Linked DNA regions of Homo sapiens. The protein of the gene in region 2 purifies or fractionates together with the protein of the main gene of each other region. This does not show direct contact. Each region holds a gene or a part of one and is shown on either strand. Other genes may lie near its edges. The genes, in order: RIMS1 and BSN.

Region 1 (3,426 bases), on a different chromosome or scaffold from region 2:
CTTTCTTAATGCACGCGCATCAAACAGCTTTAAATCTGACTGTTTTAAATTGAACTGACCAGTTGTTTTTGCCTCTTACTGACCCAGCCTAACAGATAATCTTGTGTCTTGTAGACCAAACAAATGGATGATTTAATAGGGTAAAATTCAGTCAACTGTTTAAAAACTATAAATAACTGATGCATTCATGTCTCCAAACTCTTTATTGCCTCAAATTTTATGTTGATGTAACTGTGTTTACTTTGCTTTACAAGTTAAAGCCAGCGTGGTCTATAAAAAGTTAAGAGCTCTTAGAAAGACAAGACTAGATCACAAAAGTTATTTTACTACAATGCAAGATGAAAGTAGTGCTTACCAAGTGTTTCATGAGAGGCGATGATTATTAAATACATGAGCACACTTTCAGGTAAGAAAAAATAATAAAATAACCTAAAAAGTTAATAATGTCTCTTTGAATATATTATTTTGGATATCTATCTATATTTGAAGATACTTTTATTATCTAAGATTCTATTAAAGATAATTCAGTGTAAATGTAGTGCTTATTTTTTGTTAAATTGGTCTCCTCTAAACCAAAGTTATATAAATTAGTCATGGGTTCAGAAGAAAAAGATGGAAAGAGGAAATATACTATGACGAGAGACGCAGGAATCAATTTTTTGATATGTCACGTAACTTGAAATAATTTGGCAATTGGACAATAGAGTTGTCTCTTTTATTAGCACATTCAAACAGCAGCAGAAAACAACCTTCCATTTGATTCTTACTGAGATTTATTATTTTTAATAATGCCACTTTTCAGAAGTATAGTCATGTGCTCACTTAGACAGGCTGACGAAGTGAAAACTTGTATGTGATGCAAAGTACCCTTTGGGCCATCGATTAAGACATAATATAGTGCAGTGACAAGTCAAGTCAAATGCCCGCAGCAGACAACAAACCCCAGCCTCCCCTTCCCATGGCCTGGCTCCCATTTTGCACCATAGAACCCACAATGGAAATCTGGCAAGACATAGAACACATATGGCTACTGACTGACATGAAAAGTAAATTTTATTAAACATGTTTACATACATGAATTGGAATTTCATTTAAAAGCACAGGGGAGTGTTAAGACAAGTGGTCAAAATAGAAAGATACTACCCAATTATAATCAGTTGATTGTTGGCCACTAAGACAGAACGGAATCTAGTAGAAGTGCACCAATGCTTCAGTTCCTCCTACTCAGCATGGTGAGCAGTGGTCAATCTGTGCCCTGTGGAATGATGGGCAGATAATTCTGGCATGTGTAAATAATAATAAATAATTCACTTGGTGCAGGCAGTATGTCTATGAATTAAAACCTAGTGTGTACACAGTGTCTACATGTGTTACAGCCCCACAGTAGGAATCTACACCAAAATATTTATTAGAAGGAATTTGGTCCGTACTACATCACGTTTTCCGGAGGGTAAAAAATAAAGTCCATCTATAGACATTTCACCACAGACCCAGAGACTGAGTCTGGCTAAAACCTGCAAAATGTCTATAACAAAAGTGGATGGCTTAGATTTCTTGGTTATTTCGGTATAGTAATTAACAAGCAAACTGTACAAGTACATGCAACATACAAGCTGGCCTATGTGGAACTAACATACATTATTAAATAACCTTTTGTTTCTTTTCTTTTTAAAATTTTTTTTTTTTACAAAATGTGCATGCAGCTCTGAACAGTTCCAAGTCATGCTGCTCTATTTGTGTAATCACAAAAGTGGAGTGACTCATAAAAGGAGGGAGAACATATCAATGCACCTGCAGAGACTGCAGTTTGTAGCACATGTACAGAATGTCACAAGGGAAATTCAAGGCCAAGAGAAACTAAATGAAAATGCAAATTGAAAGTTCATTTTGTTTATTTTCCCCCCAAAAAGTAAGATACTTTGCATTAAAAAATCAAGCTTTGTGCTTGCATCAATCTCAAAGAAATGTAAACTAAAATTCAATAAAAACAATAGTTTAGTGCAGAATATTTCAACTGGAATTTCCAGTGGAATATTGAACAGCTCATACCATGCTCTTTCCAGGGCAGATGGATGTGTCTACACTGAGGTATGGCTGAGAAGCCTGGGCATAGCTCAAAGTGTCTTAGGCTCAAATCCATTCCTAGTCACCATTTTTGGGAAGTCAAAGTATGGTTTATACACATGAGCATTTTTTTAATATCAGGAAGAAAAAGGCATTACAAGGAGTGTTTTCAAAGTACAATTATGCAGTTAGTTTTAGTCCCCAGCATTAGTTGCAGATTGACTTCTTTAAAAGTCTTCCATGCAAAACAATGGAAACCATAAATTAATTTTCTAGAATGCAAACAGATAGGCTCTTCATTAAAAAAGTACTTCTGTGATTATTTATTTTGGAAGATAACTTTTTGTCTCTTGGGTATCCACACATAAGACTTTAAATAATTATAAAATGAAAGCTAGTGAAACCCTTCCTTGGCTTCACCTTATGTAGCTGTTTAACACTTTGGGGAGATGCTACAGAGACTACTTCAGCCCTTTTTTTTGGTGCTTTTGGAAAAAAGAAGGGAAGAATCTCTGTTAGCATCATGAGGCCTGTCATGACACAGCCAAAAAAAAACTAGTGGAAATAACAGATGTGGTGAAAACAAAACAAAAACTCAAGAAACGAAAACCAACAAACAACACACAAATAAACAAAACACACAAAAGAACAAAACAACTCAAACATCAGGGAAATAACACTGCTTGTGGTCTGTGCAGAAATGTGTAGAATACAACTTTTCACAGAGTGAGAGTTTCCAGTTTGTTCAATTTGGTGTGTGTGTGTGTGCATGTGTGTGTGTACGTGTATGCGTGGATTTAAAGTTTCCTCTTTTTCTATTTGTTAGAAGCATCAGTGACTCTCACCAGCATGTTGATTCTTCCTGTAAATTTGATAGATTGCCTTGTTCTGTCATATGAAGCCATGTTTTAAATAACAATTGGGACATATTATTGAAAAACTACTACAGGCAAAACACAAGTTGATTGTCTGTCTCCAACAATGCTTTCGATCATGAAATATCTGGTTCAGATTATTATCCTGAAAAGTAGAGTTTTATTGGAATGACTCTGGTATGAGTTCACTATGATCGAATACAGGGAGGCCCAGTTGAACTTTCCAGAGATGACTGGGAAGCCCGCCGGGTGAGGGGAGTGAGTGTGGGATCCACCAGTGAGGACGGTGGGAACAATTTGTACCATCCGATCACCATGCTGGACAGGTCGAGTTCTTCCAACAAGATCTGAGCCACACCCATAAAGCATTTGTGGTCCATTCTGCCATAGTCTCCCCAGACAATCACCTGCAGAGATAGAGAAATGCAACATTACCTGGACTTCTCTCTGCTTCACATTCGAAGGGCTCAAAGCAACTATGCTGTAA
Region 2 (2,903 bases):
CTTCTGTTTAAAATGAAGACTGGAACAACAAACAGGAAAGAAGGACACGCATCAAAATGTTAATTCTGGGGAGAGGGCCAGAGGTGAAGCTGGGATTCCTGTTTATCTGTGTTAAAAAAAAAAAAAAAAAAAAAAAAGGTCTAGCAACTCTGGGTGACTTCGGTAAGGAGGTACTCCTGACCATCTGAGGAAGGCCTAAGGTCTGGCAGCCGGTGAGAGTTTGGGGGTTGGAAAATTCGGAGCAAGGCAGAGAGGTGTAGGGCTTGTTGGCAGCACCAGGGGGCAGCACTTGTTCACTGCCTCCCTGGAACCAGGTCCCAGAAAGCTGTGTATGCAGCCAACACACCTGAAGGCCATGGAGGTGCTGTCCCTCAACAGCCTGCGCACTGACTGCCTGCTCCAGGTCCAAGCTTGGGACCTCCCCTTGGGCACCTTTGTGGAGGGCCCATTGTCTTTGGATGGCTTGGTGTGGACTCAGCCCCGTGCTGTGCCAGCACTTCTGCAACTTTGTCCATCCTTTTCCCTTTAACCATGGACAGGATTGTCGCAAATTTGGGGATTTGCTCCTTCAGCTAAGCCTTCCCACTTGAGAAACCATCCCAGAAACAGTCTGTAGGTTGTTTATATCAAGTCCTTTTATTCTGATACCACAGAATTACCTTGTCACAATACAGGGGGAGGGACACTGAAGTACCACGAGTTCTCACAGAGCACAGAAGGACAGCACACAATTCACAAGGTCATGTGGAGGACTCGGGTCATTGCACTTACAACTGTAAACTTGTTTGTTTGACTTTGTACAGCACTCTTCCCCCCTCAAATAAAGAAGGAGAGAAGGAAAGAAAGGGAGAGAGGGAGGAGGAAGGGGAAAGCAAAAACAAGACATGAAAGCTAGAGGAAAAGGTATTGAGTGGCCACCACTCTCCAGGGTAGTGCACTTGGAGAGAAGGAGCTGATTTGACCCCAGAAACTGAATGAGGCAGAAACACACACACACACACACACGCACGCACGCACGCACATACACACATGATCATGTGCATACACATACAATATCTCACGACTGCCATGGCTCTCCAGTGCCACCCCAGTGCACATGGCAGCAGGGCTGCTGGCACCCAGGGAGACAGAGATGGCATCTCCGAGGAGTTTCAGTTGATTAGGCCTGTCCCTCTAACCCTGTTGGAGTCCATGATGACAAGTATTTACAGCATGGGGGTGGGTAAGAGGAGAGCAGACGGGACAACAGGGCAGGACCATGCTGTCCTGGCAAAGGACCTGCCTGGAAAACTCCCTACAGGCTCCAGAAGGCAAGGCATAGTTGCCACCACTGCTGTTCTTTCACTGTGGGCCCTCAGACCACATGCTCTGCCCAAGGATTGTAGGGGAGGGCTGTCACTGTGAAGTGAGTGCACTGGGCCCTGAAGTGAGCAGAGAGAGGAGGCAATGCCCTTGCTCATGATGCTGGGGAGAGGGGTATGGAGAAGGCCTGGGCTGCATGCTAGAGACTCCTTGCCCATTTGGAGATGTGTCTGTTGCTCTCTACTTTCCAAGGCACCAAGTGCTGGTCCCTCAGCTTCTGGCTGCATTGTCCCCAGAGTCACAACTGCATCCATGCAAGGGCCAGGAAGGACAGTCCATGGACCAGAGGCCTGCTCCAGCCACCTTCACAGAGGGGCGATGATGTATCCTGTGGGTACAGTGGGGGATGAGGAGTGGCAGATGTCAGAATTTCAAACTCAGAGGGCTTGGCCAGAAAGGAAATTTGCTGAAAAGTCAGTACTTTAGAGCCTGAGACTAGGCCTGCTGGAGGCTGACCTCCTAACATTTCCCTGCCTGTTCCCTACTTCTTGTCCCATCCCCTGGCCTGTAGTGGAAAGGACTATTGCCTTGGTCTCCAAGGCACATCCCCACACAGACCTGGTCCTGGGTGGCCAGAGGTGTTAGGTGATGGCTTCCCTCAGCCCTTGCTCAGATGGCTGCATTCAGCCCATACCTGATCTTTGGGATGAGGCAGGTATTCCATGGGTGGGGTGAGGCCAAGTCCCAGAAAGGCAAGGGTGTTAAGTCCAACACAAAGGTTGGCAGCTTCCTGTCCCATCCATAGCTACCAGAGGTGAGCGAGGAGCCCTCTCTGAAGGGGTGTGTAGATCTTATAGAAAAGCATGAGAAATGCGGACCCCTGAGAAATGCATGGTGCAAACCAGAGCACTCTGGACGAAGGTCAGGCCTTGAAGGGTCAGGCAGGTACTGCCTGCCGCACTCCTGGCTCAATGGTAAAAAAGCTGATGAGCAGCGGGACGCTTGGGCTTTGGAGAAGGGGGTGAGCAGGGAGCATAGGTCCTGGGGACAGATGCAGAGAGGGTCACACAGGACCTTCTGTAAGATTTGCTATTGAGAAACTTCACAAGAAACTTAGCTTGAAGCCACTGTTTATATGAACAGTTCCAGATGACCACTGTCAACTGTTCTCACCACAAGTGCCAAAGGCCCAGCTCTTCCTGAGCATCCATTGACCCCCTAGCTCCAGCCCAGATCTCCTGGCTCACAGTCCTTTGAGCCTCCTAGCCACAGAGGAGAGGCATGAAACAGGTGCAGTCAAGAGCTGGGGTCCCTCGGGCACAGCCTGGCTCTGCTCTTGCCTCTGCCTCTCTGGCTGTGGATGCCGCCCAGCTCTGCCCTTGCGTGGTGCCCTCTGGGAAAGGGCTGTCAGATGCCTCTGGCTCAGGGTTGGGGTAGGAAGGGAAAATGACAGACAGACAGATATCCTACAGCAAACCTTCAGAATGTCCATACACACACATCCTGTGCAGGCTCCTACCATTGCGTCTGCTCTGGGGATTCCTTTTTACCTGCTGTCCTGGACAGAGAAAACTGCAGGGTATGTGGGGGCCTTTTACTGC

Evidence for each region.
Region 1: the proteins of BSN (region 2) and RIMS1 purify together in Homo sapiens (affinity purification with western blotting; 2 studies listed by BioGRID and IntAct, with this or other methods). This does not show direct contact.

What each region holds. Positions count from the first base shown.
Region 1 is NC_000006.12:72,400,416-72,403,841, reverse strand, and holds the end of RIMS1 (regulating synaptic membrane exocytosis protein 1), read right to left. Parts: intron 3,347-3,426; coding exon 3,128-3,346; 3' UTR 697-3,127; downstream 1-696. UniProt on the Homo sapiens protein: Rab effector involved in exocytosis. May act as scaffold protein that regulates neurotransmitter release at the active zone.
Region 2 is NC_000003.12:49,669,260-49,672,162, reverse strand, and holds the end of BSN (protein bassoon), read right to left. Parts: 3' UTR 614-2,903; downstream 1-613. UniProt on the Homo sapiens protein: Scaffold protein of the presynaptic cytomatrix at the active zone (CAZ) which is the place in the synapse where neurotransmitter is released.